Linked DNA regions of Homo sapiens: all the other regions are linked to region 2. Evidence: fine-mapped expression QTL. A gene starts in region 2. Each other region holds a variant in brackets. All regions are shown on one strand. Distances are from middle to middle. Region 1 has its middle 130 kb from the start of ADGRA3. Region 2 holds the start of ADGRA3 (adhesion G protein-coupled receptor A3). Region 3 overlaps ADGRA3 (adhesion G protein-coupled receptor A3).

What was found. PIP is the estimated chance that this variant, and not a neighbour inherited with it, causes the effect.
Region 1: its variant is the best candidate, but not a certain one, in a credible set for the expression of ADGRA3 in aorta (GTEx, PIP 0.70).
Region 3: its variant is the best candidate, but not a certain one, in a credible set for the expression of ADGRA3 in whole blood (INTERVAL, PIP 0.90).

What each region holds. Positions count from the first base shown.
Region 1 is chr4:22,642,594-22,646,837 of GRCh38, forward strand. No RefSeq gene overlaps it. Among named protein-coding and RNA genes, the nearest start is that of ADGRA3, 130 kb to the left of the region's middle. The variant G/A (reference allele first, on the strand shown) is at 1,734.
Region 2 is chr4:22,514,291-22,518,534 of GRCh38, forward strand. ADGRA3 (adhesion G protein-coupled receptor A3) reads right to left here and starts at 1,776. Exons shown (of 19, transcript NM_145290.4): 1 at 1,238-1,776. The coding sequence starts at 1,494. It overlaps MIR12115 (microRNA 12115), which reads left to right and starts at 1,022; the gene lies at 1,022-1,095.
Region 3 is chr4:22,478,279-22,482,522 of GRCh38, forward strand. The region is part of intron 1 of ADGRA3 (adhesion G protein-coupled receptor A3); the gene reads right to left. Among named protein-coding and RNA genes, the nearest start is that of MIR12115, 35 kb to the right of the region's middle. The variant T/C (reference allele first, on the strand shown) is at 2,452.

The sequences.
Region 1 (4,244 bases), 130 kb after region 2:
GAAGAAAGGTGGTGCTCCTGATTCTTCAAACTCGGTTGATTCCTTCACTCTGTCTGCATCTCTGTTTACCCAAGGGATAAACAAAAAGATAGGAAAGGGGAGAAGAAAAGGCTTGCAACGTTTTTGTAGGGCCTTGGATCATTTGGTGTTGACTGGAGAAACTGCTGCCCACTGAGGGTGACTATGGAATTAGAGACCAAAGCCTGAGCTCTTCTACTAATGCAAATATCTTCCTACTTAGTAATTTTTATGTTCGATTTGTGCTTATTAAAAATCTTTTTATAGCACCCCTGAAAAATAAGTGAAGTCATGTGGCTATGTTAATACTGGGGGAGAAAGGAGGGGGGGGAAGTGAAGTAGTGAGGATCAATTAAAAATCAAAGGTCACCAGATACTTAGTAGGAAGACCTCAACCTGTCTGTTCATACCTGTGCCCAAAGACTGTATTCTGATATCAGTCCTGTAAATTTCTAAGTGACTGTATACTGGTCCAGTCACCCTTGAGCAAATTATTCAATTAGAATTTTTTGTCAGTATGTAGTATCTAATACAGAGTATCTAACAATAGGATTGTGGTGAGATTAAGTAAGAAAGCTTATATAAAGTGCTAAAACAGGGCATGGTTTGATAAAGGATAATAAGGAAGTTAGGAACATGGATCCTGCAACCAGATTTTCTGGATTCAAATACTAGACATACTGATTACCAGCTGGAAAGACATTTCACTTCCCATAGAAATTTCTGAGGATTAAATAAGTTAATCTATGTAAAATGCTTAGCGAAGTGGCTAATAGAAAGTGTCCAATAAATGTTAGCTACTAGTATACTGTGAGCATTGTAATCTACTCTCAAGATACTTTCAGATTTTTTTTAGCATCTATAATTTATTGTAGTCTGTTCTTGCATTGCTATAAAGAAATTACGTGAGACTGGGTAATTTGTAAGAGAAAAGGTTTAATTGGCTCACCATTCTGCATGCTTTTCAGGAAGCATGGCTCCCTCATCTGCTTGGTTTCAGGAGAGGCCTCAGGAAACTTGTAATCATGGTGGGAGATGAAGGGGGAGCAGGCACATCACATGGTGAAAGCAGGATCAAGAGAGAGGGAGGAGGTGCCACACACTTTTATTAAACAACCAGATCTCAGGAGAACTCACTCACTATCCCGAGGACAGTACCAAAAAGATGGGACTAAACCATTCATGAGAAATCTGCCCCCATGACCCAATCATCTCCCATCAGGCCCCACCTCCAACACTGTGGGGATTACATTTCACCGTGAGATTTGGGTGGGGCAGTATCCCAACTACATCATCTCTATTATATCATCTGCATTACATTCATCAGGTTCATTACCAAAGGTCATGTAACCTACCCTGTACAGTGTGTTAAAGGAAAATCCTTGGCGAAATTAAATTTAACAGAGTTTAACTGAGCAAAGAACAATTTGCTAATTCGGCAGCCTCCTTAACCAGAGTAGGCTCAGAGAGACTCCAGTACAGCCATATGGTGGAAGGAGATTCAGGGACAGGAAAAAGAAAGTGAGATAGAGAAAATGGAAGTGAGGTACAGAAACAGCTGGGTTGGTTACAGCTCAGCCGTTGCCATATTTGAATGCAGTTGGAACAGTTGGCCCCCTTTGCCCAAACTCGGTGATTGGTGCAAGTGTGGGCTATAGTAGGCTTATACCTTTATTTAGGTTATAGTTTACTATGTACAGAGAAATTTTTAGGCT[G/A]AACTTAAAATATTGTAAGGAGACAGCTTTAGGCTAAACTTGATTTAACAAGTGAAAATACAGAATTAGGAAATAACAATGTAATTAGAAGAATTCTTAGCATCTTCGTATGTTCAGTTCTCTTTATTTAGTTCATTACCTGCAATTAAAAACATTTTAATCACAAGTCTCTCAGTCTCAAACCTGTTGTTTTGCATTTGGTAAATGTCTGTTATTTCTAATAGATACTTGCATCATTTTATCATTTTTCGTATCTAATTTACTAATATTCTTCATGAAATTAGTTGGTTTCTTGAAGTGCTCCCCAGAGTTTTATTAGTTGACAGTTTCTTTGTTGATGATAGTAGCTTTGTTATCCTTGGAGAAAGTTTTCTACAATATTAATGGGAGTCTGAACTGATCTTCTAACCTTCCTAGATGCCTAGAAACAAGCTTTTTGTAGAAGGATAGCGATTATAGAACCTTTCTCAATTTTGCCAGTCAGACACCTTGAAGAAATCAATTAGTAGGCAAATTATTAACTAATTGAGCATTTAGAGTGTTCTTACTTTTGAAAAATCAATTAGGCCTTTGCCCTTAGTTTTGAAGCATTATTTCATTATTAATTGTTTTAAACAGCGGTTCATCTGCAGTGGATCCAGATCAGCTGACAGTTGTTTTTTGTTTATATTCTGTTCTTAATTGATTAATACAATGAGCTGAAAACCTTTAACATCATTGATCATGTCATGGAATGCTGAGTAATTGGCTGGCAAATGTGATTTTTAAAAATTAATGATTCAATGGTTCAAAGGAATTCAGTAGCAGATTGCAGTCAGCAAAAAAAGAGGATTTTCGGTATTTCTTCAACATGTATGATCTGAATGATAGTTCCACCTCATTCTTGGAGCCAATATTTTTTTTATCTTCATTAGTGATAATTTCTTGTACTATATTAAGCACAGTAGGTCACATTTATTTTAATGACACTTTTATTTCCACTGTGTAAACACGGCTTTTAAAGAAAATTTGAAAAGATTGCCGTTTGTTGTCAAACTGTTATCAGAACTACAAAAAGAAGATTAAATTTGTAGGATACAGTTTCATACTTTATAAGGTCTTCAAATGGAAGCAATGGTGGGAACTGGGTGGAACCAGGAGTTAGAGGTCTTAGCTCAGGAGTTTGCTCTTCTAAGAAACTTTTCCTGAACCTTGTCTCTGTAAGCTCTGAGTCCCTTTCTAGGCTCCCATGGCTCTTTAGATGTAGCTCTGTCCCTACAGTTGTCATAGTATTATTGGGTTTATTTGCATGGCTTCCTTGTTAGTGAGACTAAACTTTCAGAGGTCATGGACTTACTTACCTAAGCACTTTTATATGTTTAGTATGGCACCTTTTTTTGGAACAGAGTTGATGCTGAATAAATATTGGTTGACCAAATGCAAGGAAGTGTGTACACACACACACACAGGACATTTCATTTAGTCAGGAAAACATATTTTGGTTATACATATGAAAAATCCACTATTATTATGATTATGTATGTATGTATCTATCTATCTATCTAATTTACCTATCTTTCCTTAACATTTAAAATCAAAGTCCCTGAGTTTCCAAGATATATCTCACAAACATGTAAAATTTTTTCCTTTGGCAAAACCTCAGAGTTCAGCCAAGGTCTTAGGTCAACTGCTGAAAAGCATTTTAATCCGTGTTATCCCTGTGTCTTCAAACACTTCTTGAGCTAGAATTTTAAATCAGTGTTCTCCAAAATACATTTGATAGAAAAAAGTAACTCAAGGTATTACTAACAAAAGGATCAAATAAATTTGCAAAAACATGTTACATTTATCCCTTTGGAAAATGCACAATGTGCATTACAATATTACAGTTTCTCGGAAGTCCAGTCACAACTTTGCACATCCCAAATTTTTTTTACACTGAAATTCTTTTTTGTGAATCATTCACTAATATCTCTGGGAACTAATGGTCTATAGAATCTATTTTGAAAAATGCTGCTCTAACAACAAATAGGTCAGAGATTGTGATTTTTGTTGTGCTTCAGGTATGGAAAAAATGTGATGAGGAAAATCAAGGTCTTACAGACTGCTCACAGGCGTTCTAGCCTATTAGTATGGCAATTTTAACTGTTTCATTTTCCATGTATTTGTTGCTTTCTTTTTTAGTAATAGTTGTTTATTGCAGAAAACTTGAAAAACAGATAAAAAGAAAAAGGAAAAAGTCTTTCTGGCTGTTTTCTTTAAAAGGCTGCATCCTCAAATAGATTTGGGAAGTGTGGGGTTAAACAAAGTTAGACTTTTATGCCTTTTCAGGACTTTAATATGATTACTAATGGACAACTTGTTTCTCCACTGGGGCTATGGTATATGGTTTTTCCCAATTTTGTGAACACAGGCTGCTCTTATTTCTAAGCATTTTGGGGAACAAGGCTTGTGGGAACTCTCTGTGTATAATGAAGAGACATTTGGAAGACCTCCATTGATTGCTACCCAGTATTACTCACTGGGAGATCA
Region 2 (4,244 bases):
CACATGGTAACGTGTTAGTAACGGAGTCAAATAAAACAAAAACTCTTTCATCCATCTTCATGCCTCCATAAATAGACACATAGACACAATTTTCATGGTTAAACGTTTCCTAATTCAAAAAATGGAAATGAAGGTAAACAAAAGTGTTAGTAATGAAATGTATACCTGGCCTACCTGTGTATACTCCTGCTGAATTTGGGTTACATTTAAAACCATACTTTAAGTGTTTTCATAGATCATGCTGCGGTCCTTGCATTCATGTTTGTATAGTGGCTGCCTTGATTCTTTTTTTAGGAAACCAACCAAAACAACATAGAGGAACCCCGAGCCAAGGGACTCACATTTCAGTTGAACAAAATACCCATGAGAAACACTTAGACTCAAAACTTTCCAAACCAATTCATCCTTCTGAAAACAAACTCGACAGTCACTGGGGCCAACTGTTCAGCTAGAATTGGCAAAACTACGTTTGCAAAACTGAACCGTGAATCCCAGCACAAGTGAGTTACCAAAATTTTTCCTTCCAGGTGGAAACTCAATCCGAAAATCAAAAATCCCTCGAGTTGGAAGGCTCAATAAACCCACGGTTTTCAGTTCCAATGTTCCTGGCTTTTAAATATAAGCCCTCACAGACACGAAAACGGGACTGCAAGGTACATAAACAGATTGATCTGAAATGTTTCCAGCCCTTAATAACAACTCTATCTTAAAAGGTGCTCTTTAACTGTAATAAAACTAAGATAGCAAAAGGCAAAGGAAGCGTCTTGGGGTTTGGGCTCGCACACAGTCCTTGTGTTTTGCAAACTCTACCACGTAAGTGTAACTTAATTTGCAAAGAAGCAGAAGGACTGGCGCTTGCAATCAAGCATTGTGTTTTCTGGAAACCCAAGCCCAGGATGAATGAGCTTTAACTCTGTTGACTGCGTGTTTACTTGCATCCTCACGTGGCACCGCGCAGCCCAAAAGCGCTGCGCCGGGGACAGCGCGGGGAGCGCCTGAGAACCCGAAAACTTTACTTTGCAAACTAGTGGAGCTGGGAGGCAGCTCGGACGCAGATTCCCTTGCCTTTCCCTGAACTGCACCCATGCCAAGCACACGAGGTCTTTCCTAGCACCGCCCCCTGCCTACAGCTCCACACAAAGGCGCGTGGGTGCCGGCTGGACCCTGCTCCAAAGTTGAGCGGAGAGATAAGAAAGAGCCGAGCGGGAGAGGACCCAGCGTCGCGGGAGATACTCACAGGGTGACCGTGCGGTTGGGCAGAGTATCTGGGGGCAGGACCTGCGCGAGTTCCAGGCTGCTGCACACCACCTTGCCCTCGGCGGCGCCCGCCGCCCTGCCAGCCCCTCGGGGCCGCCCATCGTGCTTGCAGCCGGCGGGCAGCGCCGCGGCGCCGCCGCCGCCGCCGCCTCCCAGCAGCGCGAGCAGCGCTAACAGCGAGAGCGGCAGCAACAGCGGCGGCTGCGCGCGGCCCCGCCGGCGTCCGGGTGGCTCCATGCTGCGGGCCGGGGCCTGCGGGGCGAGCGGCGGCGCACTGGCCTAGCGGGCCGCCCCGGAGCCCGGGCGGGCAGGAGCGCGGCGCGGGCCCAGCGGCGACCGGAGCCTTATGGCGGCCGGAGGACGGGCCTTCCCCGGCGCGGACATGCTCCTTTGTCCGCTGCGGCTGCGCTGGGCCTCTAGGGAGCCGGGGGTCACGGCCGCATGGGTCCCAGCGCCGCTCTACCGCCCGGCGCGAGCACCGCCTCCTCCTCCTCCTCTGCCGCCGCCGCCGCCGCCACTGCCTCCTCCCCTGGCCAGGACCCGCGCGCGGCGGCTCCTCCCCGCCCGCCGCCGGCGGCCGCCCCCGCCCCTTCCCCTCCTCTTTCCCGGCTCTCCTGCTCTCCCCGTGTCTGCAGCTGCCCGGGACCTCGGGGAGGAGGCGCGCGCTCCCGGGACCTGCCGAGCCCGACTCCGACCCGGTGCGCGCCCGGGCCTCGGCCTCCGGGCAGGAGTTGTGGGGAGCCCGCGGGAAGGCAGTAACTCGTAGAGAGAACGGAGGAAAGTTCGAGTCCGAACGGAGGAAAGTTCGAGTCCAAACTCCACCCGCGGTGGCCACTCTCCTGCTCGTTTCCCTTCGCCGCCACCGCGCTCGCACCGCGGGCACAGGACAAAGCAGTCTTGTGCGCTCCTGGAGACTGCCCATGTGGCCCAAGGAGCCTGGCCCGGAGGATGGAGTAGGGACGAGAGTAGGGAATTTCCCTGACCAACCCTATGGGAAAAGTACCCAAAACCAAGTGTTTCGGAAGGAATCGCCTTCTCACCTCATTATGGTAGTCTTATTTGTCCCAAATACACTGGAGCCAGTAAACAGGTTCCTCTTCAATACAGTGAACAATCTGAAGCTGTTTCTGGCCTTCAGCAACAACAGCGATGGTCTCTAAAGGATGCATCTGGACCTCACTAGAAAGGCAGCCTTTTGAAAGAAATTCGACAGGCAAAGATACTTGAGATGTTCACCAGTTCGAGCAATAATGAGCAAACCCTCCAAGAAACCCCAACAGAATTGATTACTCTGACTTCCAGCCTCGCCCTAACATTTGCAAGCCCAGGGCTTACCTACCCTATGTTTAAAATTTTACAAGGACTATATCATGCTAATAAAATATATTCTGTGCTCCTGCCTTGAGAAATTACCTTCATAACAACCTGGAAGGTTTGTAAGCAGGATTCTCAGACACCTTGGAGTTTCTCCCTGAAACATGGCAGGTGGGAAAGAGTCAGATCCAAACCTTTGGCCTGTACACCTTCACCGTCTTTGCTTCCTGTGCCCAGCTATCTTCAAGGACAAGAGGGGATTTTTTGTACCTGTGTGTGAACACCGCAGCCCACAAAACCAAGTTCTGTTCACACTTTCTAACAGCCACCCTCTGTCTGCGTCTGGATCTCAGGTGTGCCTATACCAGTTGTTGGGTCCTTCATTGGGAGGACAGTTCTCAGAAGAAGCTAGCTCAGGGCCAAGAAGTGGCTTTGGTAATACCAGTCAGGGAATTCCAGGGTCCTGGGTCTTGGGGACATAGTGGGTACCCAGGCTTTGGGTGCTGGCCTGGAGATTTTTCACCCCATAAGAAGAGTCAGGTTGGTGTCCTCTAAAATGGAGGGCCTAGAACACGGTTTTTCTTGCTTGGGTCTAAGGACACTACTGCCTCTGGCCCCTACAAAATTTATCTTAGGGACCAATTTGCAGGAATCTGTTTATCTGGCTAGAGCTTTCTCAATGGGAAGTAAATAAATGGTCTCCATTTATCATTTATCAGTGTTGTATTAAATTTGAATAGCAGTTCATTTGACCAACCCAACCATGTCCAGTGCTGTCTAATAATACATTCTGTGATTGTATAGCTGTTCTAGTTCTTTGCTGTCTAATATGGTGGCCAACTGTGGCTACATAGTGTGTGGAATGTAGATAGTGTGCAATAAGAATTAAATTTTTCATTTCATTTTAATTAATTTACATTTGAATTTAAATGCCCAGTGGCTACCCTGTTGGTGTTGAACAACATAAGCCCAGACACTATGATGGGAAGAAAAAGTGGGAGATTATCTGCACCATTAAGTGACTTCGGATCTATAAATAACCTTAGCAGGCACACTGGTGCCTCTGTGTTAAGGTGGGTGAAATGGATCACATTTCTCTTGAATTTATCTGAAGAATTATTATTCCCTAACAAAATAATGATCTGTTTTTTGATTAAGATAAAACCTTACTACAGATTGAGCATTGAGCATCCCTAATCCAAAAATCCAAAACCTGAAATGCTCCAAAATCCAAAACTTTTTGAGTTCCGACAAGTAATACCTCAAGTGCAAAATTCCACACCTGGTCACATGTGATGGGTCACCATCAAAATGCAGACACACTATGCAGTTTACTAGCATCCCCAAGGGAAAAAAGCCCCTCCCAGCCCTTTTCTGCTGCTATATATCTTTTCAGGGCATGCCTAAATTCCCCCATGCAAGCGTGCCCCCCAAAGGTAATCAAATGGCATGCATGCAGGCTGGATTTGCCAACGACAAGTTCCCCACAATGCCCACACTGGGCCTTCATCTACGTGCATTACTCACTGTGGGTTTGCTTTTTTGTTGTTTTTTGGTTTTTGTTTTCCTTTTCTTTGCTCTGTGGTGTAAAGCTATTGTTAGTATAAAGAAATATCAGGCCGGGTGCAGTGGCTCACACCTGTACTTCCAGCACTTTGGGAGGCCAAGGCGGG
Region 3 (4,244 bases), 36 kb before region 2:
AAAAAATCAAAAAGTTTATGGAGCAGAAGAAATAAAAATTAAGTAGTTTTAGAAGTTCTCAGTTGCTTGCTATTGCAAGTCCCAGAATGGAGTGAATCATGGAAAACTGTTGACAACACTCACACCTTGTATATCAGAAGGCACAAAATGATTATCCTTTTGAGAGAAATTTAAAAATATATTTCAAGAGTACTAAATATTCAGATCAAATGTGTTGGAGCTATAATTTGGGGCATCAACCATTGTAGGGAAAAATCAGATAAACAATCAAATAGGGTTATTGTGGCAGGTTGAATGGCTGAAGTGGTTTGAAAGGCATCTCCCGGAACCTGTGAATGTGAAACTGTGAACGTGACCTTGTTTAGAAAAAAAGTGTTTGTGGTTGTAATTAAGTTAAGGTTCTAGAGAGGAGAGCATCCTGAGTTAGGGTAGGCCCTAAATCCAATGCAAGTGTCCTTAAAAGGAAAGAAGAGAAGACAGAGTTCAAGGCTCTATGAAGATGAAGGCAGAGATGAGCCTCAGAAAGAGACAGAAGTTTAAGAAAAGCAGATTTACAAGCCATAATAACTAAGGATTTCCCAGAACTAAGGAAAAGAGCAAATAGGAAATTTGAAAATGTAGCACATTTAAAAATTTCTTTTTGATTGTTTTTAAATCCATAAGCAATGTTAAAAGATAAACAATAAATATTTATAATTCCTATTAAAGGCAAAGGACTAATTTTCTAAACATACAAAGAATTCTCTAAAAAAAAACTAAGAAACAAAAAACCTCCCCAATAGATGCGGCCCACAAACACATGAAAAAAAGCTCATCATCAATGGTCATTAGAGAAATGCAAATCAAAACCACAATGAGACACCATCTCACACCAGTTAGAATGGTGATCATTAAAAAGTCAGGGGCTGGGCACGGTGGCTCACGCCTGTAATCCCAGCACTTTGGGAGGCCGAGGCGGGCGGATCATGAGGTCAGGAGATGAAGACCATCCTGGCTAACACAGTGAAACACCATCTCTACTAAAAATATAAAAAATTAGCTAGGTGTGGTGGAGGGCACCCGTAGTCCCAGCTAAGCAGGAGGCTGAGGCAGGGGAATGGCGTGAACCCGGGAGGCGGAGCTTGCAGTGAGCCGAGATCACGCCACTGCACTCCAGCCTGGGCGACAGAGCGAGACTCTGTCTCAAATAAAAAAAAAAAAAAAGAAGTCAGGAAACAACAGATGCTGGAGAGGATGTGGAGAAATAGGAATGCCTTTACACTGTTGAAGGGAGTGTAAATTACTTCAACCATTGTAGAAGACAGCATGGCGATTCCTCAAGGACCTAGAACCAGAAATATCATTTGACCCAGCAATCCCATTACTGGGTATATACCCAAAGAATTATAAATCATTCTACTATAGAGACACATGCACACGTATGTTTACTGCAGCACTATTCACAACAGCAAAGACTTGGAACCAACCCAAATGCCCATCAATGATAGACTGGATAAGAAAATGTGGCACATGTACACCATGGAATACTATGCAGCCATAAAAAAGGATGAGGTCATGTCCTTTGCAGGGACATGGATGAAGCTGGAAACCATCATTCCCAACAAACTAACACAGGAACAGAAAACCAAATACCTCACGTTCTCACTTATAAGTGGGAGTTGAACAATGAAAACACATGGACACAGGGAGGGGAACATAACACACAGGGGCCTGTCACGGGGTGGAGGGCTAGAGGAGGGAGAGCATTAGGAGAAATACCTACTGTAGATGACGGGTTGATGGGTGCAGCAAACCACCATGGCACATGTATACCTATGTAACAAAACTGCACGTCCTGCACATGTATCTCAGCACTTAAAGTATTTAAAAATCTTTTGCCAAACAAAGAAGAAAGAAAAATCGGCAAAAGGCTTGAACAGATAGTTCAGGAAAAATAAACACCAATGGATCACAATCAAATAAAGGGATGTACGACAACCTTAGTCATGAGGGAAACACAAATTAAAACGAGATGTCACAAATAACTTTTCACAGTGGGGGAAAAATGTGATCACACATTTTATATTCTGAGGGACACAGCCACTCAATATTTTGCTATAAATCAGTACAATCAGCTGGGCATGGTAGCTTAACTCCCGTAGTCCCAGCTACTCAGGAGGTGAAGGTGGGAGGATTGCTTGAGCCCAGAAGTTCAATATCAGCGTGGGTGATATACATAGCAAGACCCGGTCACTTAAAAACAAACAAAACAAAAAAAATCAAAACAAAACTATGGAGGGTAAAAGTATAAACATATATACACTATTTCATCCATTTATTCCTCTTCTAAAAATTTACCCTAAAGACATACTTGCACTTGTACAAAATATATTACATATTACATCTTATATAATTATATACTTATACAGCAAAATTATTCATTGCACTACTGTCTGTAAAAGCTAATTGCTG[T/C]ATACTTACGTTGGTTCCAATAATAGGGGACTTTATGGAATTCTTTTGTCTATCTACAAAATGAAATACCAGAAAGATGCAGTGTTGTAGGACTCAGGGAGAGGAAGCACTTTAGGTATTCACACAGAAAGATCAAGGCATATATTTACATATTTAAAATTTCCACTCTTTGAGGCCCTAGTATGCCTGTAATCCCAGTGCTTTGGAAGGCCAAGGAGGAGGATCGCTTGAGCCCAGGAGTTTGAGTTTATAGTGAGCTATGATCTGGCTACTGCACTCCAGCCTGGGTGACAGAGCAAGACCCAGTCTCAAAACAATAAAAATTTCCACACCTTGACATTTCTGATTTGCCATTTTACAAATTGTACTAATGTAAATTGACACTGTGTTAGATTTGGCCTGTATAATAATATGTGTTATTGCTACAACATTGTTTATCAAGTACAAGAAAAAGAGATAAGAAAGGAAGGTTGGCTAGATTTTGGGCCAGGTGAGTCACTAACTTCAATTGGTACACATCCTAAAGTTTTAGAGCCACCTGTGATAAGCAAAAATCAGGAATGTTAACTCCTCAAAAATAAATTTTCAGTGCTTTCCTTCATTTACCCCAGTCATGAAAACTGGTGACTCCCAACATTCTTCAAAGTTCTAGTTCAAAAGCAAAAAAACCCAGCCAGCCACTGGTTTTCTTTAAAGCCTACGACCTCTAAGAACAGTGTTTAAATTTTTAAATGCATGAAAAACAATCAGAACAATACCTCATGACACATGAAACTTGTATGAAATTCAAATTTCAATGCCCTTAAAGGTTTGTTGAAAACAACCATGCCCATTTGTTTACATATTGTTGATGGCTGCTTTTTATTTTTATTTGTATGTTTTTGTGAAAGTTTTACAGAGTAAAACAGACGTGTACAAAGGATTTCCTCTTTCAGAAGATACCTCCTACAATAATTTTAATAGGACCAAGAGTTACCAAATATTGAGGATGTGCTAGGACAGCAGAGTTGAGTAGTGGCAACAGACATTCTGGTCTGTAAAACCTAAAATATTTACTAATTGATCTTTTACAGAAAAAGTTTGCCAACTTCTGTTTTACTCTGTCTCAGCTTATTCTGTTTTCAGATAAATGCAAATCAAACGCCATTTTCTAAAATAATTCTTCCTAGCAAAAATGAGAGTATCTACTGAATCTCAAAATTCTCCATCCATTTGATAATTCTTCATATTAAAATTACATTTAATCCCACATGGCATCAGCAATTAAATCAATTTTGTCATAAGCATGGTTAGTTACTTGGTTCATCAATGTCTCTTCCTTTGATTGGATGCATTGACTCATTCATTCATTTTTGCAGAAAATAATTCTGGGTGGTATGCTTTAGCTCTTGTGTGTCAAGAAATGTTTTGCCTTCACTCTATTCACCTTGTTGTAACACTTCTCATTATTTGAAATCACTCTGTTCAGGCATTTGTGTATCTACCATTTCTCTCACAACAAAGTAAAATACATAAAGTATAAAAATCTTTTCCAATTTGACCATAATTGCATCCTCACAAAAAAAGAACATAATGGTGAATATCTGAGTGATCATATTGTGCAGTGAATATACTCAATCATTCTTCACCAGCACCCTGTGATACAGCTGGGTTCAGTGGCTTATACCTATAATCCCAGCAATTTGGGAGGCTGAGGCAGGAGGACTGCTTGAGCCCAGGAGTTAGAGACCAGCCTGGGCAACACAGTGAGACCCCAACTCTTAAAAAAAAAAAAAAAGTAAAGACAACAGCCA